Linked DNA regions of Homo sapiens: region 1 is linked to region 2. The links come from fine-mapping of genetic effects on gene expression. A gene starts in region 2. The other region holds a variant in brackets. All regions are shown on one strand. Distances are between the middles of the regions. Region 1 overlaps CC2D1A (coiled-coil and C2 domain containing 1A). Region 2 holds the start of CC2D1A (coiled-coil and C2 domain containing 1A).

Region 1 (14,477 bases), 24 kb before region 2:
CAGGCCTGCCTGACGAGGCCTTCGAGTCCCTCACCCAGCTGCAGCACCTCTGCGTGGCTCACAACAAGGTGAGCCCCCAGCCCCACCCGCAGGCCGAGCCCAGTGAGGGTGCAGCTTCAGTCACTCAGCCCAGGGTGTGGAGGGGACAGCTCTGCTGGGGAAGTGGTGGGGCCAAGGCGCACCAGGACCAGTCCGGCTGTGGGCTGTGTCCCCACAGCTCTCAGTGGCCCCTCAGTTTCTGCCCCGGTCCCTCCGTGTCGCGGATCTGGCTGCCAACCAAGTGATGGAGATCTTCCCCCTCACCTTTGGGGAGAAGCCGGCACTCAGGTAGACCCTGGCCCAGCCCAGGCCCCCAGGCCTCAGATACATCTGTGTCATGCCCCGGTTCTAGGAGCAATGAGGGAGTTAAGACCTTGCCCTCGGCCGGGTGCAGTGGCTCACTCCTGTAATCCTAGCACTTTGGGAGGCCAAGGTGGGAGGATCATCTGGGGTCAGGAGTTCGAGACCAGCCTGGCCAACATGATGAAACCCTGTCTCTACTTAAAATACAAAAATTAGCTGGGGGTGGTGGTGTGCGCCTGTAATCCCCGCCACTCAGGAGGCTGAGGCAGGAGACTGGCTTGAACCCAGGAGGTGGAGTTTGCAGTGAGACGAAATCGTGCCACCGCACTCAAGCCTGGGCGACAGAGTGAGACTCTGTCTCAAAATTAAAAACAAAAACAGAAACAAAATGCCTTGCCCTGGAGGGCTTAACCAGGGACAGATCCCTAGCCTTGGGGAGTGGGAAGAGGGCATAGTTCTACCCTGGGAGGAGAGTGAGCGGGGAGACAGGGCCCTGTATGCTGTGTCAGAACTCCAGACTGAGGTGGAGACAGTATGTGCAGGGACACACACACACACACACTTACACAGACTCACATACACACCTGCACACACAACCACATGAACACATGCTCATGCACACACAATCACATGCACACACAAGCACACACACAGACTCACATACACACCTGCACACACTTCCAACCACATGCACACAGGCACACACTCATGCATGCACACGCAATCACATGCACACACAAGCACACACATGCACATATGTACACAATGCTCACACTTTTGCACATGATCACATGCACACATGGACATACATGCATACACACAGTTGCACACTCGGCTGCACACACACAATCACATGCACACTTATGCACAGGCATGCACACATGCACACCCACACTTACAATCACATGCACACACTCACCCATGCACACTTATGCACAGGCACATAGCACACACTTGCATATACATACACACATGCACGCCCACACACTCTTACAATCACATACACACGTGCACACACACTCCACATATGCACTCATTACACTTACACATGCACACTGCTCACACATGCACACACGTCTATTCATACAACACACATGCACACTCACCTGCACACCTACGCACAGTCACATGCACACATACACAATTACATTCCCACACAGACTCCACACATGCGCGCGCACACACACACACACACACACACACACACTGAAGGCGACCCTGAGCAGGGTGTGGTGCGGGAGTGGGGTGGTAGGAGGCGAGGGGCAGGCTGGTGGCCGGAGCCTGGCTCTCCTCAGGTCCGTGTACCTCCACAACAACCAGCTGAGCAACGCTGGCCTGCCCCCCGACGCCTTCCGCGGCTCCGAGGCCATCGCCACCCTCAGCCTCTCCAACAACCAGCTCAGCTACCTGCCGCCCAGCCTGCCGCCCTCACTCGAGCGGCTCCACCTGCAGGTAGCCCTGCTGTAGGTCCCACCCCGGGCCAGACTCTCTTCACCTCTTTCCAGGGGGACCCCTCCAGTTCCTAGCTTTCCATTCTTCTCAATTGCCCCTCAGAATGCCAGTGGTCAGAGTTATCCTTCTTTGAATCACTTTATTGGAAATCGCTTTGAGCTCAAGGCAAGCTCCTCGTCACTCCCTTACTCAAGAGCCGTCTGTGGCTTCCCGCTGCCCTCATCCCAGACTCAAGTCTCATTCTCTTCTTCCTTCTCCAGAACAATCTCATCTCCAAGGTGCCCCGAGGAGCCCTGAGCCGCCAGACTCAACTCCGTGAGCTCTACCTCCAGCACAACCAGCTGACAGACAGTGGCCTGGATGCCACCACCTTCAGGTACAGGCTGGTTGGGGGGCAGCAGGGGCTGAGAATTTACAGTCGGGGGTCCCAACCTTCAGTCCCCCTTCCCTGACTGGCTCCTAAGCCACGGCCTCATTTACTGAGTGCCTGCTGCTCACTGGGCTCGGCAGAGCACTGGGTAGGTGTCCCTGTTCCCCACAGCCCTGCACTGACATCGTAAGTCTCACATGCCTTTCCATCTCGGCTCTACCCTGGTCACCCCCATAGCTAACTCTCAGGCTGGAATCTGCCCTGGGCACCCCAAGTTTACCTCCCACCCAGCTCTCTCCACGCATCACTCCCAAGTCAAAATCTCCAGCTTAAATCTGTCTCAGGACCACTCCCCAGCCTCCCCGCCAAAATCTGTCAGGCACCCCACTCCAAGTGCCCCACCTAACACCGACCCTCTCTCCTTCCAGCAAGCTGCATAGCCTTGAATACCTGGATCTCTCCCACAACCAGCTGACCACAGTGCCCGCCGGCCTGCCCCGGACCCTGGCTATCCTGCACCTGGGCCGCAACCGCATCCGGCAGGTGGAGGCGGCTCGGCTGCACGGGGCGCGTGGTCTGCGCTATTTGTTGCTGCAGCACAACCAGCTGGGGAGCTCAGGGCTGCCCGCCGGGGCTCTGCGGCCGCTGCGGGGCCTGCACACGCTGCACCTCTATGGCAATGGGCTGGACCGCGTGCCTCCAGCCCTGCCCCGCCGCCTGCGTGCCCTGGTGCTGCCCCACAACCACGTGGCCGCGCTGGGTGCCCGTGACCTGGTCGCCACACCGGGCCTGACGGAGCTTAACCTGGCCTATAACCGCCTGGCCAGCGCCCGTGTGCACCACCGGGCCTTCCGCCGGTTGCGTGCCCTGCGCAGCCTCGACCTGGCAGGGAATCAGCTAACCCGGCTGCCCATGGGCCTGCCCACTGGCCTGCGCACCCTGCAGCTGCAACGCAACCAGCTGCGGATGCTCGAGCCCGAGCCTCTGGCCGGCCTGGACCAACTGCGGGAGCTCAGCCTGGCGCACAACCGGCTCCGGGTCGGCGACATCGGGCCAGGCACCTGGCATGAGCTCCAAGCCCTCCAGGTCAGGCACAGGCTGGTTAGCCACACTGTCCCCAGGGCCCCTCCATCCCCCTGCCTGCCCTGCCACGTCCCAAACATTCTAGTTAGCTGGTAAAGCAATCAGAACAAGAAAATGATAAGAGTGGGTTAGAAGGTGATGAGGAGGCTGGGTGAGGTGGCTCATGCCTGTAATCCCAGCACTTTGGGGAGCCAAGGCAGGAGAATCGCTTTAGGCTATGGGTTTGAGACCAGCCTGGCAACACAGCAAGACCCTATCTCTACCAAAAAAACATAGCCAAGCGTGGTGGCACATGCCTGTAGTCCCAGCTATTCAGGAGGCTGAGGCAGGAGGATCGCTTGAGCCCAGAAGTTTGAGGCTGCAATGAGCCGTGATCGGGCCACTGCCCTCTAGACTGGGCAACAGAGCAAGACCCTGTCTCTTGAAAAAAAAAGTGATGAAAGAGGTATGGTGCGATTCAATGACTGACTCATTTAATCAAGTGGGGACCTGTCTGTCTGTGCCTTCCTGGGAAGGGCCTTAGTTTACCTCTGCAGAAGGGAGGAATTTGGCAATCATGGGGGGTGGGGGGCAGAAGGGCCAGGCTGGTATGAAGGGGGCAGGGGACTCTCAGAGAGGTTGGGGGCTGGCTGAGCTGAGTGGCCCAGGCCTGGGGCTGCCACGATGCCATCTATAACCCCCTGCCCAGATGCTGGACCTCAGCCACAATGAGCTGTCCTTTGTGCCCCCGGACCTGCCTGAGGCCCTAGAGGAGCTGCACCTCGAGGGCAACCGCATCGGCCACGTGGGCCCCGAGGCCTTCCTCAGCACACCCCGCCTGCGTGCCCTCTTCCTCAGGTGCCCCGAGGGTGACCGGAGGGGTGGAGGTGGGCAGGGGAGGGCCTGGGAGGGTCATGACCGCCTCTCTGTGCAGGGCCAACAGGCTTCACATGACGAGCATCGCGGCTGAGGCCTTCCTGGGGCTCCCAAACCTGCGTGTGGTGGACACGGCAGGGAATCCGGAGCAGGTCCTGATCCGGCTGCCTCCCACCACCCCACGTGGGCCACGGGCAGGGGGCCCCTGATCCTAGAGAGGCCCAGCAGAGCAGCTCAGACTCCTGGGACTCCGCTGGGCCGTGGACTGAGGAGACAACGCCCACCAGGGGCCCTTGGTCTGGCTCTCCTGGGCCTCCAGGGCTGGGCCTGCTCTGCCTGCCACTGGCCGAGACACAGAGGCACACAGCTGGCATACTCCAGGCTCACAGACCACGCCGGCCTGGCGGGACACACCCTACCCCAAACTCCCAACACAGATGGAGGCAGCAACAATAAAGCCAAACCCTTCCAGCACTCAGCACGGACCAGGCACCCTTTGGGGGCTCTGTCCACGGACTCCTCCCCACAACCAGTCCAGCTGGGGAAACTGAGGCTCTGGGATGCTAAGTGGGTCAGGACTGAATTTTGAGGTCTTGAGGCACACACTGGGGTCACCAAACAGCACCCTGTGCGACCTAGCCACGTGTGATTGCAGGGACGCCCAAGGCCACCCACTGAAAAAACACTGGGTGACAGATATAGGGACCCTCACATGTATCCCCCCCCACAGCAAGCATGGGAATGAAATGCATCCTTCAAGCTGGGTGTGTGGTGGTGCCCTTCTGTAATCCGTTAGGAGGCTGAGGCAGGAGGATCATGTGAGCCCAGGAGTCGGAGGCTGCAATGAGCTGATTGTGCCACTGCGCTGCAGCCTGGGTGACAGAGGGAAACCCGGTCTCTAAAAAAAAAAAAAAAAAGCACCTTTCACAAGCACACTGTCCCTCCCCAAAACTGCTTCCCTAACAGGCGCCTCCCCATCCACTTCCAGGGGAACCGGGGGGTGGGTGGGAAGACCTAGCCTGGCCACCGAGGGTCTGAGCAAGAAACAGACAGGACAGAGCTGGGCTGAGTGTGGCCCTGGCTATTTTATTCCATGTGCTGGCCCTGGGGACCCAGCTGGGCCAGGTCGACGCCCCTGGGGAGACAGTGTGGCTCGGCCAGCCTCAGTGGCTTCTTTGGGGTGCAGGAGGGCTTTGGGGTTAAGGCTGGGGAGGAACAGGAAGTAAAGTGCTTGCAGGGGCCCTCGGGGCTTGGCCCCAGCCACCCTCCCTGCTCCGGGGCGGGCCAGAGGCCGGACACCCCTGGGCTGTGCAAACAGGACTCTCCAGGGCCCAGCCAGGCCTGGGTGAGGGGCACATACTGGCTGGCAGGCATGGTTCCCAACACCCGCAGCCACGGAGGCTCTGGCGGGGCTGGGGGCCCGGATGAGGGGTGAGTCCAGAACCGATTGTCCGCTGATTGTCTGCTTGTCTGGTTCGTGGCTGTGTCGGCTCTTCCCGGTATCGGGGCCTGCTGCCCGCTTTCTGGGGGCTGCCCGCCCCATGGGCTCCTCACCTGCGGAGCCGCTGCAGCTGGGGGAGAGGAGGCCACTGGGGTCATGGAGGTGGGCTACGACCACAGTGATCCCCCAACCACCCCATCTCCTAAGCTGCTTACCTCACTCTCTACCAGATTCCGCCTATAGAGCGCCTCCTTTGCAGCATCCTGTGGGGGATGGGCATTCAGCAGGTAGTCCCTGCAGGCCCCACCCTGCCCGCTGCCCAGTGCCCACCCGGCCCGCGACCAGCTCACCCTGCTGCCATCGTTGCCCAGGCGCCGGGCAGCCTCCGTGTAGAACTGCAGCTGCCGCTCCAGCTGGGCTG[C/T]GTATTCTGAGAATGGATGGCGGGGGAATGGAGGCTTAGGGTGGGGCCTCACTGCCCACAACCCTCCTGGACTGTGCCCATCCCCAAGCCCGTCCCCCGCCAGGTGCCCATCCCCGAGCCCCTCCCCCTCCAGGTGCCCATCCCCGAGCCCCTCCCCCTCCAGGTGCCCATCCCCGAGCCCCTCCCCCTCCAGGTGCCCATCCCCGAGCCCCTCCCTCTCCAGATGCCCATCCCCGAGCCCCTCCCCCTCCAGGTGCCCATCCCCGAGCCCCTCCCCCTCCAGGTGCCCATCCCCGAGCCCCTCCCTCTCCAGATGCCCATCCCCGAGCCCCTCCCCCACCAGATATGCATCCCTGAGCACCTCCCCCCCCATGCCTATCCTGGAGCTCCTCCCCCACCAGATGCCCATCTCCAAACCCCTACCCCGTCGGATGCCCACACCCCCCTGCTCCAGCTGTGCCCTCTGCCACTGGCTGCGTTGCATGATGTCCTGGTACTGCTGGGCCACTTCTGGGGGCACCGGCCGCCGCGCCTGCCTGAGGGCCAGGATCTAGAGGATACAGAGGGTCCTGTGAGGATCCTGCCTGGGCCTGCAGACTCCCCAGTCCTGCCCCATGTAGCCCGGCAGGATGGATACCCACCTTCCGCTCCAGACGCTCTTGGTCAAACGCCAGCACACTGAGGCTATGCAGGGGCCGGGCTGATCTAAGGGGTGGAGGAAGGATAAGGGACTGCAGAGATTCCCCCAGCCCAACCCTGTTAATTCAAAAGACACACTGGGCTGGGCACAGTGGCTCACGCCTGTAATCCCTGCACTTTGGGAGGCGGAGGTGAGTGGATCATGAGGTCAGGAGTTCGAGACCAGCCTGGCCAATATGGTGAAACCCCGTCTCTACTAAAAATAGAAAAAAAATTAGCTGGGCATGGTGGTGTGCTCCTGTAGTCCCAGCTACTTGGGAGGCTGAGGCAGAAGAATTGCTTGAACCTGGGAGCTGGAGGTTGCAATGAGCCGAGATCACACCACTGCACTCCAACCTGGGTGACAGAGCAAGATTCTGTCTCAAAAAAAAAAAAAAGCCGAGCATGGTAGCTCATGCCTGTAATCCCAGCACTTTGGGAGGCCGAGGCAGGCAGATCACCTGAGGTCGGGAGTTCGAGACCAGCCTGACCAACATGGAGAAACCCCATCTCTACTAAAAATAGAAAAATTAGCTGGGTGTGGTGGCGCATGCCTGTAATCCCAGCTACTCAGGAGGCTGAGGCAGGAGAATCGCTTGAACCCCAGAGGCGGAGGTTGCTGTGAGCTGAGATCGCGCCATTGCACTCTAGCCTGGGCGACAGAGCTAGACTCTGTCTCAAAAAAAAAAAAAAAAAAAAAAGACACACTGGGCACTGGGGGTATGGTGGGAGACAGCCGAGAACCACCCGGTGTTACTGATCCCAAAACCTAGCGGGGATGATGGCTGCACACCCAGGAAACTATGATGCCTAGTGGTCAGGGAGGGCTTCCTGGAGGAGGTAACAGCCAAGTTGGGATCCAAAGAAGGAATCAGAGGTGGGCAGAGGAACAAGGAACACCCCTACCCTAGGTAGGGGTGTTCAGGGCACTGGAACCCACAGAAGTCCAGAGGCCAGTGAAAACTATTCATGGACATGAACCACAGGAGGGAGTAGGGAGAGAGAAGCCTGGATATGTTGACAATGGTCAGATCACAAAAGGTTTTAAAGACCAAACCAAGGAGTTTAAACTGGATCCTCTGGGAAAAGGGGTGCCAAGAAAGGTTTTGCAGCAGGAGAGGGACGTGGTCCAATTTGTGCCTGGTGGGAAACTGTCCAGGTGGGGCTGAGAGGGGAATTGGGTGTTTTCTCCAGCATGCCCTGGCCCAGATACCTACCTGTTCCCTGACTCCCTTGCAGGGGCAGGCACAGGAGGGGCCTTCCCTTTGGGCCCAGCAACCTGCTTCAGAGGAGAGAACCAGTCCTGTGAGTCCTGGGCCCCTGAACCAAGCTTCCCTCCCTGGGGTTGCTGATGGGTGGGGGTGGGGGGTCTCACTGTGGGCACAGCTGCCGGCACAGGGTCAATGACCAGCCACCTCTCTGTCGTCGTCTCCAACTGCTGGGCTGTCAGTGGCTCCCGAATCCGGACCATTACCTCCAGTCGCCCCCCTGTGGGCCGGCGACCATCCAGGACCTGGGTGGGGGTAAGGAGAAACTGTTGGTGGGAAGCAGGAAGTGACTAGAGGCCCAGGGCCAGGACAAGGGAGAACAAGACTGGTTTTTTTTTTTGGTTTTTTTTTTTTCTGAGATAGAGTCTCGCTCTGTTGTCCAGGCTGGAGTGCAGTGGTGCAATCTGGGCTCACTGCAAGCTCCGCCTCCTGGGTTTACTTACGCCATTCTCCTGCCTCAGCCTCCCGAGTAGCTGGGACTACAGGCGCCCGCCACCATGCCTGGCTAATTTTTTTGTATTTTAGTAGAAACAGGGTTTCACCATGTTAGCCAGGATGGTCTCGATCTCCTGACCTCGTGATCTGCCCGCCTCAGCCTCCCAAAGTGCTGGGATTACAGGCATGAGCCACCATGCCTGGCCAAGAGTGGTTTCTAAAATATGAGCCCATGGTATGGCTGAGATACCAGTTGATCATAATGGAGTGGGGTACTGCAAGTATTTAGGGCTGGGCAGTAGGGAGGTCTGAGGCTCTGAGGGGAGGGGCTGGGTCAACAGACAGGCTCATAGAGGGCTCAAGGCAGGAAGTGTTTTAATAATGTTAACGAGTAGCATGGCCATACCGGAGCACGCGGATGAATGTCCACCTCTCACCTCAAGGATCTCCCGGACCTCACATGCTATCTCCAGTGCATCCAGCTTCAGCTGGGCTGTCCCCAGCACCCGGTCAGTCTTGAACAGCCCCCTGTGTGCATGTGTGTATAGTGGGGACAGGATGGTTGGTTCAGAGGAGCTCCCCTCCCCTGGAGCCCACCCAGCGGCCATGGCTCTCTCTAGCTCACCCCTTGTGAACCACTTCGAACTTGATGCCCTTGGTCTGGATGGCCCTTCGGAAGCCACGGTGGCTGCGGTTGATGCAGAGTTTGAACTGCTCCTTGAACTCTGCAGGAGGAAGGAGGGAGAGGAAGTTGGGTGGGGTCAGGCCATTGTCTTATGTCCCTTCTGCTGCAAGGGAGTAGGGGTAGGGTGCTTCCAGCCGAGGCTCACCAGGGGAGTCTGTGTTCTTGATCACACTGGTCTTGTCTTTCTGAGCTTCTTCCTATGACCAGAGAGGAGGCAGGAAATCTAGGGGGCCTGGGACCTGGCTTTGGCCCACTGAGGCTGCAGCCCTCCCCTCCTCAGCTCCCCACGTACCACGTTGGGATAGGGGAAGTCAAACCGAACAAAGACATCCAGATCGCCAGGGGACAGTCCTGTGGGCAAACAACGGTCAGAGCTGGGCAGAGAGGGGGTCCCCATGACCCTGACCCTTGCCTACAGCCCCCTCACCTGGGGGTGTGGGCAAGTTGATGCCCTTCACGATGAAGAGGAGCATGTCGTTGCTGCTGAGGTCAGGGAAGATCCTTCCGGGTGGGCAGGTGGGCAGGCAGGTGGGCAGGGAAACAGAGGCACCTCAGTCCCACTGCCCGCCTGCCTTCTCTTCCCCCAGTGGGGGCAGGGAACAAACCCCACCCTGGCCTTCGGGGGTGTCTCAGCTCCTGGGCTCATTTTAGAATCAGACAGACTAGAGTTCTCTGTTCAGGTTGGCAATGGATCACTTTCGAGTCTTTTCTTCAGTCTGTGTATATTTATTTGGTATCTACTGTGTGCTAGGTACCCTAGCTGCTGGGTGATATTCCCTTCACTTAACAGTTGTTGAGTCCTACTAAGCATCAGCCAGTGCCCTAGCTGCTGGGAGATCTTTCCTTCATTTCCCAATGTTTCTTGAGCACCTACTATGTGCCAGCCAGTACCCCAGCTGCTGGGGGACCTTCTTTTCACTTAATATATATGTGTGTGTGTGTGTGTGTGTGTATATATACATATATATACGTGTATATATATATATATACACATATATATACGTATATATATATATACACACATATATGTATATATATATACACATATATATACGTGTATATATATATATATATATATATATATTTTTTTTTTTTTTTTAGACAGAGTCTTGCTCTGTCGCCCAGGCTGGAGTACAATGGTACGACCTCAGCCCACTGCAACCTCCACCTCCCAGATTCAAGAGATTCTTCTGCCTCAGCCTCCTGAGTAGCTGGGATTACAGCTGCCCGCCACCACTGCTGGATAATTTTTATATTTTTAGTAGAGATGGGGTTTCACCATGTTGGCCAGGCTGGTCTCGAACTCCCGACCTCAAATGATCCGCCTGCCTTGGCCTCCCAGCCTGGCCTCACTTAATATTTTTTGAGTCCTATTAAAGCACCAGCTAGTGTCCTAGTTGCTGGGGGACCTTCTATTCATTTCACAATATTTCTTTTTTTTTTGAGACAGTCTCACTCTGTCGCCCAGGCTGGAGTGCAGTGCGATCTCTGCTCACTGCAAGCTCTGCCTCCCAGGTTCATGCCATTCTCCTGCCTCAGCCTCCTAAGAAGGTGGGACTATGGGCGCCTACCACCACGCCCGGATAATTTTGTGTATTTTTAGTAGAGACGGGATTTCACCATGTTAGCCAGAATGGTCTCGATCTCCTGACCTCGTGATCCACCCACCTCAGCCTCCCAAAGTGCTGGGATTACAGGCGTGAGCCAGCACGCCTGGCCTCATTTCACAATATTTCTTGAGCACCTACTATGTGCCAGTCAGTACCCTAGCTGCTGGGGATCTAGAAGTAAATACCCATACCCTGTGCTCAATCTAGCTGAGTGGACAGATGAGCATAAGTACATAAATAGAAAAACAATAAAAAACTCAGCAGAGAGGGGAGAGTGGAGTGTGCTCAGAAGAGACTGCTCGGATAGATAGGGAGGGCCTCTTAGAGGGAAGGTGACATCATAGGTGACTCTAGATGTCAAGAGGGAGCTGCCACATGGAGACCTGAGGAAGAGGGTGAAGGCGGAAGAAATAGCTGATGCAGAGGCTTGGGGTAGGAACACACTTTGTTTGTAGGAGGGACCAAAAAGAGTCCCTTGTGGCCAAAGCTGAGTGAAGCGGGGACAGGAGGCAGAGAAGAGGTGACAAGGAGCCAGGCTGTGTGGAGATGGGGGAGCCAGGGTAAGGGGTGGGGGTTATCCCAAGGGCAGCTGGGAACCACCGGAGGGCTAGTGGCTGCACCTAACCTCATTTAGAAAGTGGAGAAAATGGGCCGGACGCAGTGGCTCACTCCTGTAACCCCAGAATTTTGGGAGGCCAAGGCAGGCGGATCATTTAAGGAGACCAGCCTGGCCAACTGAATGAAACCCCGTCTCTACTAAAAATACAAAAATTAGCTGGGCATGGTGGTGGGCACCTGTAGTCCCAGCTATTTGGGAGGCTGAGGCAGGAGAATTGCTTGAACCTGGGAGGCAGAGGTTGAAGTGAGCTGAGATTGCGCCACTGTACTCCCGCCTGGGTGACAAAGTGAGACTGTCTCAGAAAAAAAATTTTAAAAAAGGCCGGGAGTGGTGGCTCACGCCTGTAATCCCAGCACTTTGGGAGGCCGAGGTGGGCGGATCACGAGGTCAAGAGATCGAGACCATCCTGGCTAACACGGTGAAATCCCGTCTCTACTAAAAATACAAAAAATTAGCCAGGCGTGGTGGTGGGCGGCTGTAGTCCCAGCTTCTCGGGAGGCTGAGGCAGGAGAATGGCATGAATCCAGGAGGTGGAGCTTGCAGTGAGCAGAGATCACACCCCTGCACTCCAGCCTGGGCAACAGAGTGAGACTCTGTCTCAAAATAAAAATAAAAATAAAGTGGAGAAAACAATCCCCGCTCCTCTGGGCATGGGAAGACTTGATAGTACCAAGACTAACACCCACCAAAGCCGTGACTCATCTCTGGTCCCCCGTGGACTCACCCAGGCCCTGGGACAAGATACACCTTTGCACTCTCTAGATCTTTCCCAAATGCGTCACTGTGACTGCACCCTCACCATCCTTCACTTGTATCTCATGCCTGCCCCAGAGCCTTTGCATGCTCTGTGCTCTTCCACCTATCCAAAATTTCTTCCAGATGTAAATCTTGTGCCAGCTTCTGGGGAGCACAACCCGCCCCACCGCCACCAAAGGGCCACTGGGGCCACGTGGTGGGGCGTAGATCAGGAGCCTTACTTGATGACGCTGAAGGTCCTTTGCTCAAAGCGGGCGGTGGGCGTGGGGAGACCCCGGACGAAGGCTTGCTTCAGAATGTCCATGCTCCGCTTACAGTCCTCCGCCAACTTTTCAAACCTGCCGGTGGGAGGGCCCTGCTCATGTCCCTGGCCCTGGGGATGGGTGGCTGGGGGTGCAAGTGTCTGGCACAGGTCAGGGCACTTACTTGGTGGTTTCAGTGATGTTGCCCAGCTGGGTGAATTGGTTTGAGTGGTTCAGGCACATCTGGGGAAACAGAAGGCAGTGAGTCGAGGGAAGGGAAGAGAGGGGAAGGAGGGTCACGCTCCTGGGGGATGGGCTGGGGGCCTCCCCCTCACCTCGTGCTGCTGCCGTATGAGCTTGGTGAGTTCACCATAGCGCCGGGCGGCCTCCTGAGACAGACCCGGGCCAGGCCGCTGGACCAGGGCAAAGTCGTCCTTGTTGACAGGGGCAGGCGGCACCTGGGGAGGACGAGGCTGGTGGCGGGGGTAAGGAGGACAAGCAGGCCCACCTAGGGCTCTGCAGAAATGTCATTCTTCCTTGACGAGGGGCATTCCCTGACCACGGCTCTGTCACCCTTCTCTGGTCTTTTTTTTTTTTTGAGATGGAGTCTCGCTCTGTTGCCCAGGCTGGAGTGCAATGGCGGGATCTCAGCTCACTGCAACTTCCACCTCCCGGGTTCAAGTGATTCTCCTGCCTCAGCCTCCTGAGTAGCTGGAATTACAGGCGCCTGCCACCACACCTGGCTAATTTTTGTATTTTTAGTAGAGACAGGGTTTCACCATGTTGGCCAGACTGGTCTCGAACTCCTGACCTCAAGTGATCCGCTGGCCTTGGCCTCCTTAATTGCTAGGATTACAGGCATGAAAGACCATGCCCGGCCTCTGTTCTTTCTTCTTGATCCTTCCATTGTCCCATTTAACAAGGGCATCCTTCAGTCACCCCAGAAATCATGTATGGTGCCGGGTGCAGTGGCTCATGTCTATAATCCCAGAACTTTGGGAGGCTAAGGCGGGTGGATTGCTTGAGCTCAAGAGTTTGAGAAATCATGTATGGAGCCCCTACTGTGCGCTAGGCTCTGCTTTGGGGCTGGGGACACAAGGATGAAGAAGAGAGAACAAAATCCCTGCCCTCGTGGGGCTGACATTCTCTTGGGGGAGATGGGCAATAATCAGAAGAAATAAGTAAATCATATGAGAGAGTAGAAGGTGATACATGCCACAGGGAGAGGCAGAGCTGGGAGGAGGAGCAGAGGGATCTGGGTGACAGGGAGGGATTTTAGACAGCTCAGGGTAGGCCTCCTGGAGATGTGATGTCTGAGCAGAGACCTAATGATGGGAGAAAGTGAACCACACAGGTGTCTGTGGGAAAAGCATTCAGGCAGTGGGAACTGCATGTGCAAAGGCCCTGAGGTTGCAGAGTGCCTGGTGTTTGAGGCTACCAGACAGCAAGGGGAAGAGTGAGCGAGGGGGTGGGTGAAAGAGAAGGGGCAGGCCGGGCACAGTGGCTCATGCCTGTAATCCCAGCACTTTGGGAGGTCGAGGCAGGTGGATTGCCTGAGGTCAGGAGTTCAAGCCCAGCCTGGCCAACATAGTGAAACCCCATCTCTACTAAAAATATAAAAATTAGCCGGGCATGGTGGCGTGTGCCTGTAGTTCCAGCTACTCGGGAGGCTAAGGCAGGAGAATCGCTTGAGCCTGGGAGGTAGAGGTTGCAGTGAGCTGAGGTCGTGCCACTGCATTCCAGCCTGGATGACAGGGCGAGACTCCGTCTCAAAACAAAACAAAACAAAACAAAAACAAGAAAGAGACCAGGCAAGGGAGCTGATGGGGCAGATGGTGCAGTCTTCATGGGCCGTGATAAGGTGCTGTATTTATTTGTGTGTTTCTTGTGGTCTCTCAATTAGAACATCCACTCCATGACAGTGAGTCTCACTGTGTTTCCCAGGCTAGTTTCGAGCTCCTGGCCTCAAGGAATCCTCCCACCTCAGCCTCCCAAGTAGCTGGAATTACAGGTGTGACCCACCATGTCCAGAGAGAGTGTGGATTTTTGCCTTTTTTGCTCAAGGCCATGTCTCCAGTGTCCAGCAAAGACTACATGTCCCAGGCTCCTCTGAGGCTAAATGTAGCCATGTGACTGTTTGGGCCAATGGGAGGCAAGCAAAAGTGATGTCACTTCCTTAAACTGGGTGGCCTTTGCTGGGCGCCCAGTTCAAGCTCCTCA
Region 2 (14,477 bases):
CAGAGCAAGGGTTTGTCTCCAAAAAAAAAAAAAAAAACACACACACACAACAACAACAAAAAAAACCCCAGCTCTGCAACTTTCTCTCTGTGAGAACTTCGGCAAGTGATGTCACCTCTCTGAGCCTCAGTTTCTCCCTCTGTGACACGGGGATGACAACAGTTCCTCCTTCATAGGTAGGTTGGAGCAGAGAAGGTCAATGAAGCTCTTAGAATAGCATATTGCCAATATCTTGTTATTAGTTATGTTACATTCTATAAAGCTGCTTTGAAGACTAAATTAATGACTATAAGACTGTTGCTCCTAGGGGAAATTTAAGCTTAGGTTCCTGTGAATCTCCAGTCATAACCTTTTTTGGAGACAGGATCTTGCTCTGTCACCCAGGCTGGAGTGCAGTGGCCCAATCAGAGCTCACTGCAGCCTCAAACTCTTGGCCTCAAGTGATCTTCCTGCCTCAGCCTCCCGAGTAGCTGGGATTACAGGCATGCACCACCACACCCAGCTCTGGTCACAAAATTTTAATCAACTGATCAATACACAACCTTGCTCTATGTGTGTTTCTGTTTGAAGACACCTTCCTGAATAGATATCGTTCATTCATTAACTTTGAATTCACAGCCAACAGCACAGTAGTTCATGCCTGAATGAAGCTTCTCTCTTTTTTGTTTTTTGGAAACAGGATCTTGCTCTGTCACCCAGGCTGGAGTGCAGTGGCGCAATCTCTGCCCACTGCAACTGCTGCCTCCTGGATTCAAGCGATTCTCATGCCTCAGCCTCCCAAGTAGCTGGGATTACAGGTGTTCGCCACCAAGCTTGGCTAATTTTTGTATTTTTAGTAAAGACAGGGTTTCACCATGTTGGCCAGGCTGGTCTCGAACTCCTGGCCCCAAGTGATCTGTCCACCTTGGCCTCCCAGAGTGCTGGGATTACATGCATGAGCCAATGTGCCTGGCTGACATGAGCTTATTGTGTGTGAGGGGGCCCTGGGTGAAATACTTATGGACTCCAGATTAACTCCTATAACATGGTTATTATTCCAGTTTTACAGATGGTGAAACTGAGGCCAAAGCACATGATGTGACTCATCAAGTCACATAACCAGTAAGTGGCAGAGCTCGGATTCCAACTCTCAGTCTCGGTCCAGACTTGATCTTTTTTTTTTTTTTTTTTTTTTTGAGACGGAGTCTTGCTCTGTCGCCCAGGCTGTAGCGCAGTGGTGCGATCTCGGCTCACTGCAAGCTCCGCCTCCCTGGTTCACGCCATTCTTCTGCCTCAGCCTCCTGAGTAGCTGGGACTACAGGCGCCCGCCACCACGCCCGGCTAATTTTTTTTTTTTTTTTGTATTTTTAGTAGAGACAGAGTTTCACCGTGTTAGCCGGGATGGTCTCAATCTCCTGACCTCATGATCTGCCTGCCTCGGCCTCCCAAAGTGCTGGGATTACAGGCGTGAGCCACCGTGCCCGGCCTCAGAGTCGATCTTGACTCTCTTACCCAGATCATTGGCTCCAGGAGAACAGGGGTCTTCTCTGTCTTCTTTCCCCTACCTACCCAGTGCCCCCAGTTCTGCGCCCGAACCACTTGCAGGAGATCAGAAAATGTTCTGAGGGTGTGTTAACCATCTCACCTTTGCCTTTGAGCTTCTCCAGGGCTGGGGGCTGGCCCCCGACCAAAGCCAAGAACTCAGCCTCCAGTTCTTCATCGTTAGCCCCGTCCTCAGGGATCATCAGGCCATCTGGGGAGAGGTCAACCAGCAGGCCCAGCTAGGGGAACAGCAAGGGTTCAGTCAGACCTTTGGTTCACCACATGGCTAGAGGCAGCCATGATGGCCAGAGAGTCCCCTTGGGAGGAAGGAAACAAGGTCTCCCAGGGAAAGCCATTTCCCTGGGGAGTGCCAGGAGGCTGGAACAAGCCCAGAACAGGTGTTCCAAGATAGGCCAGGCCCTCTGGCACAGTTCAACCTGGGGCAAAGGGCAAGAGACCCAGCTCTCTGATCTGAATCCACACTTATGATGTGCTGCTGGGCCAAGTTCAGTGGGAAAAGCAGGCCCCTGGCTGGGCGCAGTGGCTCACGCCTGTCATCCCAGCACTTTGGGAGGCCAAGGCAAGAGGATGGCTTGTGTCTGGGAGTTCCAGACCAGCCTGGGCAATACAGTGAGACCCCCAACTCTACAAAAAAAAAAAAAGTTTTTTGTTTTTTGTTTTTTTTTGACACAGAGTCTCGCTCTGTCACCCAGGCTGGAGTGCAGTGGTGCAGTCTCAGCTCACTGCAACCTCCGCCTCCGGGGTTCATGCCATTCTCCTGCCTCAACATCCCGAGTAGCTGGGACTACAGGCGCCCGCCACCACGCCCGGCTAATTTTTTTTTTGTATTTTTAGCAGAGACGGGGTTTCACCTTGTTAGCCAGGATGGTCTCGATCTCCTGACCTCATGATCTGCCCGCCTCGGCCTCCCAAAGTGCTGGGATTACAGGAAAAAAAACTTTTTAAAATTAGCTGGGAGTTGTGCTGTGTGCCTGTGGTCCCAGCTACTCGGGAGGCTGAGGCAGGAGGATCACTTGAGCCTGGGGAGATCAAGGCTGCAGTGAGCCATGACTGTGCTACGGCACTCCGCCTGGGCAACAGAGTAAAGCCCTGTTGAAAGGAAAGAAAGAAAGAGAGATGGAGCCGGGGAGGGAGAGAGGGAGGGAGGAAGGAGGGAAGGAAGGAAAAAAAGAAGGAAGCGAGGGAGGGAGGGAAGGAGGGAAGGAAGCAGGCTCCACACTTTGCCCAAAGCAAAGCTACTCTGTACACTTGGGCTTTTCTTTCCAGCATCCTCAGCAGAGGGGCTGTGTGGGAAGGTTGGGCTTCAAGAGCATGATGGCTGCATGCGGTGGCTCACGCCTGTAATCCAGGAGTTCGAGACCAGCCTAGCCAACATGGTGAAACCCCGTCTCTACTAAAAATACAAAAATTAGCTGGGAGTGCTGGCGGTGTCTGCAATCCCAGCTACTCGGGAGGCTGAGGCAGGAGAATTGCTTGAACCTGGGAGGTGGAGGTTGCAGTGAGCTGAGATTGCGCCACCAAACTCCAGCCTGGGCAACAGAGCAAGACTCTGTCTCCAAAAAAAAAAGAAGAGCAATTAGAAGCCCTGACGACAGGGCCAGGTGCAGTGGCTCACGCTTGTAATCCCAGCACTTTGGGAGACCAAGGTGGGGGGATCACCTGAGGTCAGCAGTTCGAGACTAGCCTGGCCAACATGGTGAAATCCCATCACTACTAAAAATACAAAAATTAGGCCGGGCACGGTGGCTCACGCCTGTAACCCCAGCACTTTGGGAGGCCGAGGCAGGCGGGTCACCTGAGATGGGGAGTTCGAGACAGACCAGCCTGACCAACAGGGAGAAACCCCGTCTCTACTAAAAAATACAAAATTAACCAGGCATGGTGGCGCATGCCTGTAATCCCAGCTACTCGGGAGGCTGAGGCAGGAGAATCGCTTGAACCCGGGAAGCGGAGGTTGCAGTGGGCCGAGATTGCGCCACTGCACTCCAGCCTGGGGCGAGAGAGCAAGACTCTGTCTCAAAAACAAACAAACAAAAAAAGAACCCCTAACCACAATGCAGGTTTGCCATGCAGACCCGTCTTCCTATCTTGGCTAATGACCAATCATGATGTGATAACATCGTGTTTAACCATATGAAATTGCCTTTCCTGTAGGTAAAAAATGGCCAAATATTGGCAATTATGTATGGTTCCACCAACTAGTAATAATGATAATAGTAACATTTATTGAGTGCTATGTTCTAGCACTTTCCATAAACTATCTCAATGACTCTCTACAACTGTCCTGTAATGTAGGGTCTCTTGGAGGTCTCCATTTTTAATTTTTTATTTATTTATTTATTTTCAGAAGGAATTTATTTATTTATTTTGAGAAGGAGCCTTGCTCTGTCACCCAGTCTGGAATGCAGTGGCGCGATCTCAGCTCACTGCAACCTCCGCCTCTCGGTTCAAGCGATTCTCCCACCTCAGCCTCCCGAGTAGCTGGGATTACAGGTGCCCGCCACCATGCCCAGCTAATTTTTGTATTTTTAGTAGAGATGGGGTTTCGCCATGGCCTCCCAAAGTGCTGGGATTACAGGTGTGAGACACCACCCCGGACTTCCATTTTTAATTTTTTATCTTTATTTTAGAGAAAGAGTCTTGTTCTGTCACCCAGGCTGGAGCAGAAGTAGCGCAATCATAGCTCACTGCGGTCTTGAACTCCTGGGCTCAAGCAATCCTCCCTTCTTAGCCTCCCAAGTAGTAGTACTACAGGCACATGCCACCATGCCCAGTTAGTCTTTTTTTGTCGAGACGGGGGTCTTGCTTTTGCCCAGGCTGGTCTCAAACTCTGGCCTCAAATGACTCTCCCACCTCTGCCTCCGCCTCCATCTCCTGAAGTGCTGGGATTATAGAGATCTCCATTTTACAGATGAGAAAGCTGAGGCTCAGAGCTGTAAAGTCAAGTGTCCGATGTACAGAGGCCAGGAGGGAACTTCAGGTCAGCCAGACTCTAATATCTGAACACCAAGCTATGTCCTGGGCTCCTTCCATCAAAACTGAGAAAAATCAAACTATCTGGTGCCTGGGGCAAAGAAGTCGGGAGAGTGAGAAGGGGTCCAGCCACAGTGCCATAAGCTTATGGCTGCAGCCCTGGATTTGTGCTTAGCCCTGGCCAAGCTGTTAATCCCTATGACCTTGGGCAGATGTCTTCACGTCTCTGAGTCTCAAAGTCCTCATCTGTACAATGGAATAAAAAGAGTCTGACATGGCCCGACTGATGCAAGGGTTTGATGTGTCAAGTCCGAGGACTGCCCCTCCTCGACTGGAGCAGCTGTGGCAACAGGTGGCCCCGAACCCGGGGCAGGGCCCCAGGAGCTGGGGAGCCAAGGCCAGTAGGCCACACTTGGGTGGTGTTGGAGCCTCACCTGGGGGGAGGCGGGGACCGGGGCTTACCTGTGGGGCGGAGATCGGGCTTCCCTGGGGGGTGGGGCCCTTCCCTGAGCGAGTGACGGGGGTGGGGAGGGATCCCCAGGTCGGGCCGTGGGGCGCAAACTCACCTGGCGGGCGGCCGCGGCGCCTCTGCCCGGGGGTCCCGGGGGTCCTTTCCTCTTGTGCATCTTCAAGGCTGGATGCCCGGACCACCTGCCCCCAAGCCCGGCCTTGCCCTGCCTCCTTCCCCGGGCTCTGTCGCCGCGCACTCGCCCTTCCTGAGTCCTGCACTCCTCGTCGGCGCCCCGCGGCCGTCGATCCCGAGCCCTCGCTTCCCTGCTTGGCCGTCCCACTTCCGCCTCGGGCCTCGGGCGCCGCCGCACCGGAGCGCGGCCACTGGGCTCGCCGGGTCTGCCGAGCCGAAACTACAACTCCCGGCAGGTAGTGCGTGGGCGCGCAGGCGCCTGGCTGGGGCGGTGCTGACTGTCGCGGGCTGCGAGGGCGGTGTTTGCGTCGCTCATGCGCGGGGCGGGACCTCGCGGGGCGCGGGAAAGAGGCAGAGCGCGCGCAGGTGTGAGGGGCGGCGACATCTGTGGGGTTCAGAGCGTCTGTCAGTCACCGACGGGCTCCGGCTTCACGTGGGCTCTCGGCCTGTGGAGTCCTCACTTCTCGGTGGTCGGCGTAGTGTCAGTGTGGGGCTTGTCACCGGGAGCGGGGTCTACAGCGCCCACCCTCAGGCCTTTCCATCTTTCACCTCCGGACTCGAGGCCTCCAGCGTTCTGTGAGGGCCAATTTGGCCATTTATTTTTTCCAAAAAGAGTAACGCGGATAATTCAAGCGACTTATTCCCAACTGATCCAGGCAGAGCTCGTTTCTGATAAGGACAGAGGGTCCTCAACGACTTCTGTGGCCCAGGTCCGTTCTGGTTTGCCTCGCCCCCAAGGCTGGGAGAAACCGGCCTATGGCAGCTCTTTCCCCTCCAAGGACCCAGCTGTCCCCTTTAAAGTGGCACGATCTTGGCTCATTGCAACCTCTGCCTCCTGGCCTTGTACCACAGCCTCCTGAGTAGCTGGGATTACGGGTGTGTGCCACCGCACCTGACTAATTTTTTTTTTTTTTTTTGAGACGGAGTCTCGCTCTGTCGCCCAGGCTGGAGTGCAGTAGAGCGATCTCGGCTCACTGCAACCTCTGCCTCATGGGTTCAAGGAATTCTACTGTCTCAGCCTCCCAAGTAGCTGGGATTACAGGTGTGCGTCACGATGCCCAGGCTAATTTTTGTGTTTTTAATAGAGAGGGGGTTTCACCATATTGGCCAGGCTGGTCTCCAGAGGCCCCTGGAGAGTCCTCAAGTGTCCTTGGAAGGGCCCCCAGATACCCCAGTCTGGAGGGAGGGGCTTCACACAGGCTGTTTCATCCTAGGGACCAGAGTCTGGGTCCCCGGGGCTATCTATAAGGACCCCCCAGGGCCCATTTGTCTTTCAGGTCCTGGGCATAAGATCTTCAGTTTGGAGGAGGTTTGAATTCCTACCTGGCCATGGCCCAAAGTGGCTGTGACTCTGTGTCCCATCCTGTGTCCCAGTGGGAGCCATCTGACCCCTGGGGCAGCCAAATGGGCTGAGGTGGAGGTAGGGGTAACCTCTGCTCTCAGCCAAAGCCACTGGATATAAACAGAGACAGAGACTGCTTATAATGATGAGAGATTTTGCTTGTTTTCAGATTTCTCAAGGGGAAGATAAAATGACTAAGAGGAAGAAGCTGCGGACCTCAGGTACGTTCATTCAAATGGACACTTGTTGATTTCTGCTTCTGCTTGTGGGAAGAATGTGGGCTTGTTTATTGCAGATCTGGCTAACACGACTGCCTTAACCTCCTTAAAAGGAAGCAAGGATTGGCCGGGTGCGGTGGCTCACACCTGTAATCTCAGCACTTTGGGAGGCCGAGGCGGGCAGATCACAAGGTCAGGAGTTCAAGACCAGCCTGACCAACATGGTGAAACCCCGTCTCTACTAAAAATACAAAAATTAGCCAGGTGTTGTGGCACATGCCTGTAGTCCCACCTACTCGGGAGACTGAGGCAGGAGAATCGTTTGAACCTGGGAGTCCGATGTTGCAGTGAGCCAAGATGGTGCCACTGCACTCTAGCCTGGGCAACAGAGCAAGACTCTGTCTCAAAAAAAAGAAAAAGACAAAAAGGATTTAATTCATGCTGGTAAGAAAAATAGAAGGCCGGTGTGGTGGCTCACGCCTGTAATCCTAGCACTTTGGGAGGCCGAGGTGGGCGGATCGCTTGAGTCCAGGAGTTCAAGACCAGCCTGGGCAACATAGCGAGATCCTGTCTCTACAATGTAAAGTAAGGAAATTAGCTGGGCGTGGTGGCAGGCACCTGTAGTCCCAGCTACTCAGGAGGTTGAGGCAGGAAGATTGCTTGAACTGGGAGGTGGAGGTTGCAGTGAATCCAGATCGTACCACTGCACTCCATCCTGACTGATAGATTGAGGCCCTGTCTCAAAAAAAAAAAGAAAGAAAGAAAAATAGAAATAACGGAGAGGGCATACAGGAAAAGTAAAAGTGAAAGTTTTCTGGAGCTTCTGCAAGCCTCTGGTGGGGTCCCACAGCTTAGAGGAGGCCTCCCCGGGCTTCAGGGCAGCGGGACAGCCTCCCTGCGGAACCAGTCCCAGAGATGACCCCTGGAATAATGCTTGATGTACTACAAGGCCACTCGGTATGTGGCTGAGTGTTTTACTCTGGGGCCCAAAACCTGGGTTCATCCCAGTTCTGCTCAGTGTGTGGTGGTGGATGATTTCCTCTGTGCCACAGTTTCCCCTTTTGTAAATTGGGGATAATAAAAGCCACTACCCTTTCCTTTAGAGCAGTGTTTCTCAACTAGGTGAGAGGAAGGGATTTTGACCTCCAGAGACAGCTGGCAATGTTTGGAGACTTTATTTTTTTTTTTTTTGGAGACCAAGTCTGACTCTGTCGTCCAGGCTGGAGTGCAGTAGCAAGATCTTGGCTCACTGCAGCCTCCACCTCCTGGGTTCAAGCGATTCTGCAGCCTCAGCCTCCTAAGTAGCTGGGACTACAGATGTGCACCACCACGCCCGCCTAATTTTTGTATTTTTAGTAGGGATAGGGTTTCACAATGTTGGCCAGGCTGGTCTCAAACTCCTGACCTCAGGTGATCTGCCTGCCTCAGCCTCCCAAAGTGCTGGGATTACAGGTGGGAGCCACCGTGCCCGGCCTAGAGACTTTTTTTGGTTTTCATAACTGGGGAAATTATACTGACATCTAGTGGGTGGAGGCCAGGGATGCTGCTCAAATATCCTACCATGCATAGGATGCCCCCCAGCCACAGAGAATGATCCAGCCCCAAATGTCCTCCAAGGTGAAGAATCCTGCCCTTAGAGCTCACATGTGGATTAGTATCTGTAAAGCACCCAGAACTGACCTAAGGTAGTACACAAATGTACACTGCTGTTAACAATTCTTCTTCCAGACTTTTAAGAAAACTTTTATTTTGAAGTAATCTGGGACTTAAAGAAAAGTTGCAAAAATAATTCAGAGAGTTCTAGCTACCCTTCTCCAAGCTTTCCCTAATGTTGACATCTAGCATAGCCATAGGACAGTGATCAACTGTAGAACAGCATGAAAAACAGGACAGGACTCTAACCTCGGTACACTGCTTCTAGACTTTTTTTTTTTTTTTTGAGACGGAGTTTCGCTCTTGTTGCCCAGGCTGGAGTGCAGTGGCGCGATCTCGGCTTACTGCAACCTCCACCTCCCAAGTTCAGGCGATTCTCCTGCCTCAGCCTCCCAAGTAGCTGGGATTACAGGCACCCACCACCATGCTGAGCTAATTTTTGTATTTTTTTAGTAGAGTCAGGGTTTGGTCAGGCTGGTCTTGAACTCCCAACCTCAGGTGATCTGCCCGTCTTGGTGTCCCAAAGTGCTGGGGATACAGGAGTAGGCCACCGCGCCCAGCCCAGACTTTTTTGTTTTTGTTTTTGAGACAGAGTCTTGATCTTGTTGCCCAGGCTGGCGCGATCTCGGCTCACCGCAACCTCTGCCTCCTAGATTCAAGCAATTCTCCTGCCTCAGCCTCCCAAGTAACTGAGATTACAGGCATATGCCACCATGCCCAGCTAATTTTTTTGTATTTTTAGTAGAGATGGGGTTTCTCCATGTTGGTCAGGCTGGTCTCGAACTCCCAACCTCAGGTGATCCGCCCATCTCGGCCTCCCAAAGTGCTGGGATTACAGGCATGAGCCAGCGCGCCCAGCTCAGACTTTTTTTTAAGATGATGTCTCACTCTGTTGCCCAGACTGGAGTGCAGTGGCACGATCTTGACTCACTGCAGCCTCCGCCTCCTGGTTTCAAGCGATTCTCTTGCATCAGCCTCCTGAGTAGCTGGGATTACAGGTGTCTGCCACCACGCTCAGATAATTTTTGTATTTGTAGTAGAGATGGGGTTTCACCATGTTGCCCAGGCTGATCTTGAACTCCTGGCCTCACATGATCTGCCCGCCTCAGCCAAAGTGCTGGGATTACTGGAGTGAGCCACCATACCCAGCTTTTTTTTTTTTCTTTTTTTCGAGACAGAGTCTTGCTTTGTCGCCCAGGCTGGAGAGCAGTGGCACAATCATAGCTCGCTGCAGCCTCGACCTCCCCAGGCTCAGGTGATCTTCCCACCTCAGCCTCCGGAATAGCTGGGACTACAGGTGTGTGCCACCATGACTGGCTAATTTTTGTATTTTTTGGAAGAGACGAGGCCTCACTATGTTGCCCAGGCTGGTCTTGAACTTCTGGGCTCCAGCAGTCCACCTGCCTTGGCCTCCCAATGTGCTCAGAATTACAGGCATGAGCCACCATGCCTGGTCAGACTTTTTCTGTATATATACAGATACAGTGTTGAGCTTTTTTCTTTTTTTTTTTTTTGGAGACAGTCTCACTCTGTCACCCAGGCTGGAGTGCAGTGGCACGATTTTGGTTCACTGTAACCTCTGCCTCCTGGGTTCAAGTGATGCTCATGCCTCAGCCTCCTGAGTAGCTGGGATTACAGGTACCTGCCACCATGCCTGGCAAATTTTTGCATTTTTAGTAGAGACGGGGTTTCACCATGTTGGCTAGGCTGCTCTCTAACTCCTGACTTCAAGTTATCCGCCTGCCTCAGCCTCCCAAAGATTACAGGCATGAGCCACCGTGCCTGGCCCAGATAAAATGTTTTTATTGGAAAATCGAATCATCACACTTACTGATCTGCAACCTCCATTTTTCACTTTGTGGTAGATCATGACCATGTTTACTTGTCAACATACCTATACAATTTCATCATTTGAAAAGAAAAACACCCCAAAATAGCCAGGCTTGGTGGTACGCACCTGTACTCCAGGCTACTTGGGAGGCCGAGGTGAAAGGATTGCCTGAGACCAGGAGTTCATGACCAGCCTGAGCAACATAATGTTACCCAGTCTCTAAAAAAAAAAAAAAATTTTAATTAACCAGTGTGGTGGTGCCTACCTGTAGTCCTGGCTACTTGGGAGATTGAGGCAGGAGGATGGCTTGAGCTGAGGAGTTCCAGGCTGCAGTGAGCTATGATTGCGCCTGCACTCCAGCCTGGGCCACAGAACAAAACCCTGTCTCTTAGAAAAAAAGAAAGATTGTTGGGCACGATGGCTCATGCCTGTAATCTGAGCACTTTGGGAGGCCGAGGCAGGTGGATGGATCATTTGAGGTCAGGGTTCGAGACCAACCTGGTCAACATGGTGAAACCCCATCTGTACTAAAAACACAAAAATTAGCCGGGCATGGTGGCATGTGTCTGTAATCCCAGCTACTTGGGAGGCTGAGACACGAGACTCGCTTGAGCCCAGGAGAGCTGAGATTGCACCACTGCACTCCAGCCTGGGCGACAGAGTGAGACTCTGTCTAAAAAAAAAAAGGAACAAACCAAGTCAGAAAGACAAACTCCCAATATGATGTAGTAGAGTTCCATTTGCCTATCATTTTCTAAAGTAAGTTAAATTTCTTCAAAATTTTGAAATGACTTTTTAATTTAGTGGCTGATGAATTTAGGGAATGGTGTGCATGTTTTTTCCCCCAAGATATGGGACAGGAGAGGAAATGATCAGCAGATTGAACATGTTTTGTGCAGAGATGAGCAACAGGCTGCTTGGAGGCATCAGAATTTCTCTGACCTTGGAGGGGGAAGCTGGGGACAGCCAGGTCCACCCACAGCAGGTCACTTGGGGCCTCTGTTGGCGGTAGACTCCCCAGCTCAGTGGACCTCTGGGCTGGCCCTGGACAACCCTTTCTGTGTGTGCTGGAAGGGTGGAGAGAGAGGAAGAAAATTCTGGCAGGTGGTGAAAGAGGCCTTTTCCCTCCCAATGTCTTTAGTCTTTGGTGTCGAACACAAGGTTCTGCCTTATTTTTTCTTAAATTAGTCCCATGTGGACAGATCACAGGAAGGAAAGAGAAGACTCTTCAATGCCATTGATATTTTTTTGCTTTTTATTTGGTACAAATGGCCATTCAGTCAGCCAAGTGAGCAAGTGTTTGAGAATCTCAAGAAACCAAATAAACAAAGCAGCTATATTTTGTCTTTTCTGGCAGACCACAAGGTCGTGTTTCTTTTGAGACAGAGTCTTGCTCTGTCACCCAGGCTGGAGTGCAGTGGTGCAGTCTTGGCTTACTGCAACCTCCGCCGCCTGGGTTCAAGTGATTCTCCTGCCTCAGCCTCCTGATTAGCTGGGACTACAGGTGCCCACCACCACACCTGGCTAATTTTTTGTATTTGTAGTAGAGACAGGGTTTCACCATGTTGGCCAGGCTGGTCTTGAACTCCTGACCTCAAGCAATCTGCCCACCTCACCCTCTCAACGTGGTGAGATTACAGGCATGAGCCACTGCACCCGGACGGTTAGGAATGTGTTTCTATAAGCAATGTCCATCGGAGCTTTACTTGTGGTGGTACATCCTTTGAGGTGGGCACCTGATGGGGCAGGGCAGGGCGAAGGGGAGATCAAAGGGTGCATTGCACTCAGTTCCTGCCCTGGAGATCCTCCAGCTGTAGTCAGAGGACAAAGGAAAATGCTTCTCTCAGCGAGAGCTAAGCAAATACACAGCAGTGGGATAAAGTTCTAAACGGGCACTCCCGAACTGTAACTGACAGAATTACAAGCAACTTACCGTGCGCCATGGCTCACACCTGCATTCCCAGCACTTTGGGAGGCCAAGGCAGACAGATCACTTGAGATCAGGAGTTCAAAACCAGTGTGGCCAACGTGGTGAAAACCCGTCTCTACTGAAAATACAAAAAAATTAACCAGGCATGGTGGCTTGCACCTGTAGTCGCAGCCAATCAGGAGGCTGAGGCAGGAGAATTGCTTGAACCCAGGAGGCAGAGGTTACAGTGAGCTGAGATCATGCCACTGTACTCTAGCCTGGGCAACAGAGCGAGAGTCCATCTCAAAAAAAAAAAAAAAGAAGAAGAAGAAGAATTAGAAGCAATTACAGGAAGATTGCTGTGGTTTAGTGGAGGGCAAACAGCTGAATGGGGACTGATGCAGACCCTAGCAATTGGCGTCGAGGAAAGAGAGACTCATTCAGTAGGTTTACTTCACGATGTGTAAGTGTGTAATGTAGAGCTGAGGTTGGAAAGAGTCCATCTGGGGTTTGGATAGTGTTATTCTTTTTTTTTTTTTTTTTTTTTTGAGATGGAGTTTCACTCTTGTTGCCCAGGCTGGAGTGCAATGACGCGATATCGGCTCACTGCAACCTCCGCCTCCCGGGTTCAAGCGATTCTCCTGCCTCAGCCTCCTGAGTAGCTGAGATTACAGGCATGAGCCACCATGCCCGGCTAATTTTGTATTTTTAGTAGAGACAGGGTTTCTCCATGTTGGTCAGGCTGGTCTTAAACTCCCGACCTCAGGGGATCCGCCCGCCTCAGCCTCCCAAAGTGCTGGGATTACAGGCATGAACCACTGCGCCTGGTCCTGGATAGTGTTATTCTTTAGTGTTTTTTTTAGAGATAGGATCTAGCTCTGTTGCTGAGGCCAGAGTGCAGTGGCACAATCACGGCTTGCTGCAGCTTCAACCTCCAGGGCTCAAGCAATCCTCCTGCCTCAGCCTCCTGAGTAGCTGAGACTACAGGTGCATGCCACCACCCTCAGCTAATTTTTAAATGTTTTATAGAGGTGGGATCTCACTGTGTTACCCAAGTGAGATCCTGGACTCAAGTGATCCTACCCCCTCAGCCTCCTGAGTAGCTGGGACTGCAGGTGTGCACCACCACACCTGGCTGTTGGTTTGTCTTTTTGTTCTGCCTGCCTTGGCAGAAATCTACTACATAGTAGGCATTCAGTAAATGCTCAAGTATTCTTAAGTGTGCTGGTTCTGGAGTTGGACGGGGTGCCAGCCTTGGTTCCTGGGCCTCTGTGTGCCTTAACGTTTTCACCTCTCTGGGAACTTGGGGCCCTTGGGTGTCAATTCTCGCATCTTTCCTTTCCTTTTAATTTAATTTAATTATTTATTTTTTTGAGATGGAATCTCACTCCCTTGCCCAGGCTGGAGTGCAGTGGCGCCATCTTGGCTCATTGCAACCTCAGCCCCCCGGATTCAAGCGATTCTCCTGCCTCAGCCTCCCAAGTAGCTGGGATTACAGGTGCCCACCACCATGCCCAGCTAACTTTTGCATTTTTAGTAGAGATGGGGTTTTGCCATATTGCCCTTTTATTTATTTATTTTAATTTAAATGTTTAATTTAAATGTTTTTTTGAGACAGGCTCTAGTTCTGTTGCCCAGGCTGGAGTGCAGTGGCACAGTCTGGACTCATTGCAATCTCTTCCTCTGGGCTCAAGTCATCCTCCCCCTTCAGCCTCCCAAGTATGTGGGACTGCAGGCATGCACCACCATGTTTGGCTAATTTTCGTACTTTTTAGACAGGGTTTCGCCATGTTGCCCAGGCTGGTCTTGAACTGCTGAGCTTAAGCAATCCACCTGCCTCGGCCTCCCAAAGTCCTGGGATTACAGGCTGGCATCTTTCCTTGCTGGTGGCAAAGGCCAATATTTTAATCATGGACAAAGATAATATTGAATTGCTCAAGGTACTTCTGTAAGGCAGGCATAACAGCAGCACCCTGCCTTGAGCTTTTATCTTAACACACACAAGTTCTTAGGACAGCATCTGGTGTGGAACTCACTAGAGTCAACCCTTATCATTTGTTCACTGAATGCATGATTAGGTTGGGGCCAGGCTTGGGGAAGTCTTACAAGCCAGCCACTATTGAAAGTTTTGATGTGGCTGGGCACGGTGGCTCATGTCTGTAATCCCAGCACTTTGGGAGGCCGAGGCGGGCGGATCATGAGGTCAAGAGATCGAGACCATCCTGGCCAACATGGTGAAACCCTGTCTCTACTAAAAATACAAAAATTAGCTGGGTGTGGTGGTGCGTGCCTGTGGTCTCAGCTACTCAGGAGGCTGAGGCAGGAGAATCACTTGAACCCGGGAGGCAGAGGTTGCGGTGAGCAGA

Evidence for each region. PIP is the estimated chance that this variant, and not a neighbour inherited with it, causes the effect.
Region 1: its variant is the best candidate, but not a certain one, in a credible set for the expression of CC2D1A in whole blood (INTERVAL, PIP 0.86).

What each region holds. Positions count from the first base shown.
Region 1 is chr19:13,921,571-13,936,047 of GRCh38, reverse strand. It overlaps CC2D1A (coiled-coil and C2 domain containing 1A), which reads right to left. Exons shown (of 29, transcript NM_017721.5): 15 at 12,593-12,715; 16 at 12,442-12,500; 17 at 12,237-12,353; 18 at 9,458-9,531; 19 at 9,323-9,381; 20 at 9,176-9,227; 21 at 8,971-9,070; 22 at 8,783-8,873; 23 at 8,018-8,155; 24 at 7,860-7,924; 25 at 6,606-6,669; 26 at 6,388-6,514; 27 at 5,894-5,970; 28 at 5,759-5,806; 1 more. The coding sequence ends at 5,653. PODNL1 (podocan like 1) reads left to right here. Exons shown (of 10, transcript NM_001370095.3): 4 at 4-68; 5 at 218-327; 6 at 1,638-1,794; 7 at 2,055-2,170; 8 at 2,593-3,250; 9 at 3,936-4,084; 10 at 4,161-4,861. The coding sequence ends at 4,311. Among named protein-coding and RNA genes, the nearest start is that of PODNL1, 9.6 kb to the left of the region's middle. RefSeq lists a silencer at 14,306-14,477. The variant C/T (reference allele first, on the strand shown) is at 5,965.
Region 2 is chr19:13,897,106-13,911,582 of GRCh38, reverse strand. It overlaps CC2D1A (coiled-coil and C2 domain containing 1A), which reads right to left and starts at 5,382. Exons shown (of 29, transcript NM_017721.5): 1 at 5,082-5,382; 2 at 1,625-1,760. The coding sequence starts at 5,141. It overlaps BRME1 (break repair meiotic recombinase recruitment factor 1), which reads left to right and starts at 5,466. Exons shown (of 9, transcript NM_001345843.2): 1 at 5,466-5,868; 2 at 6,670-6,721. The coding sequence starts at 6,691. RefSeq lists a silencer at 5,008-5,067.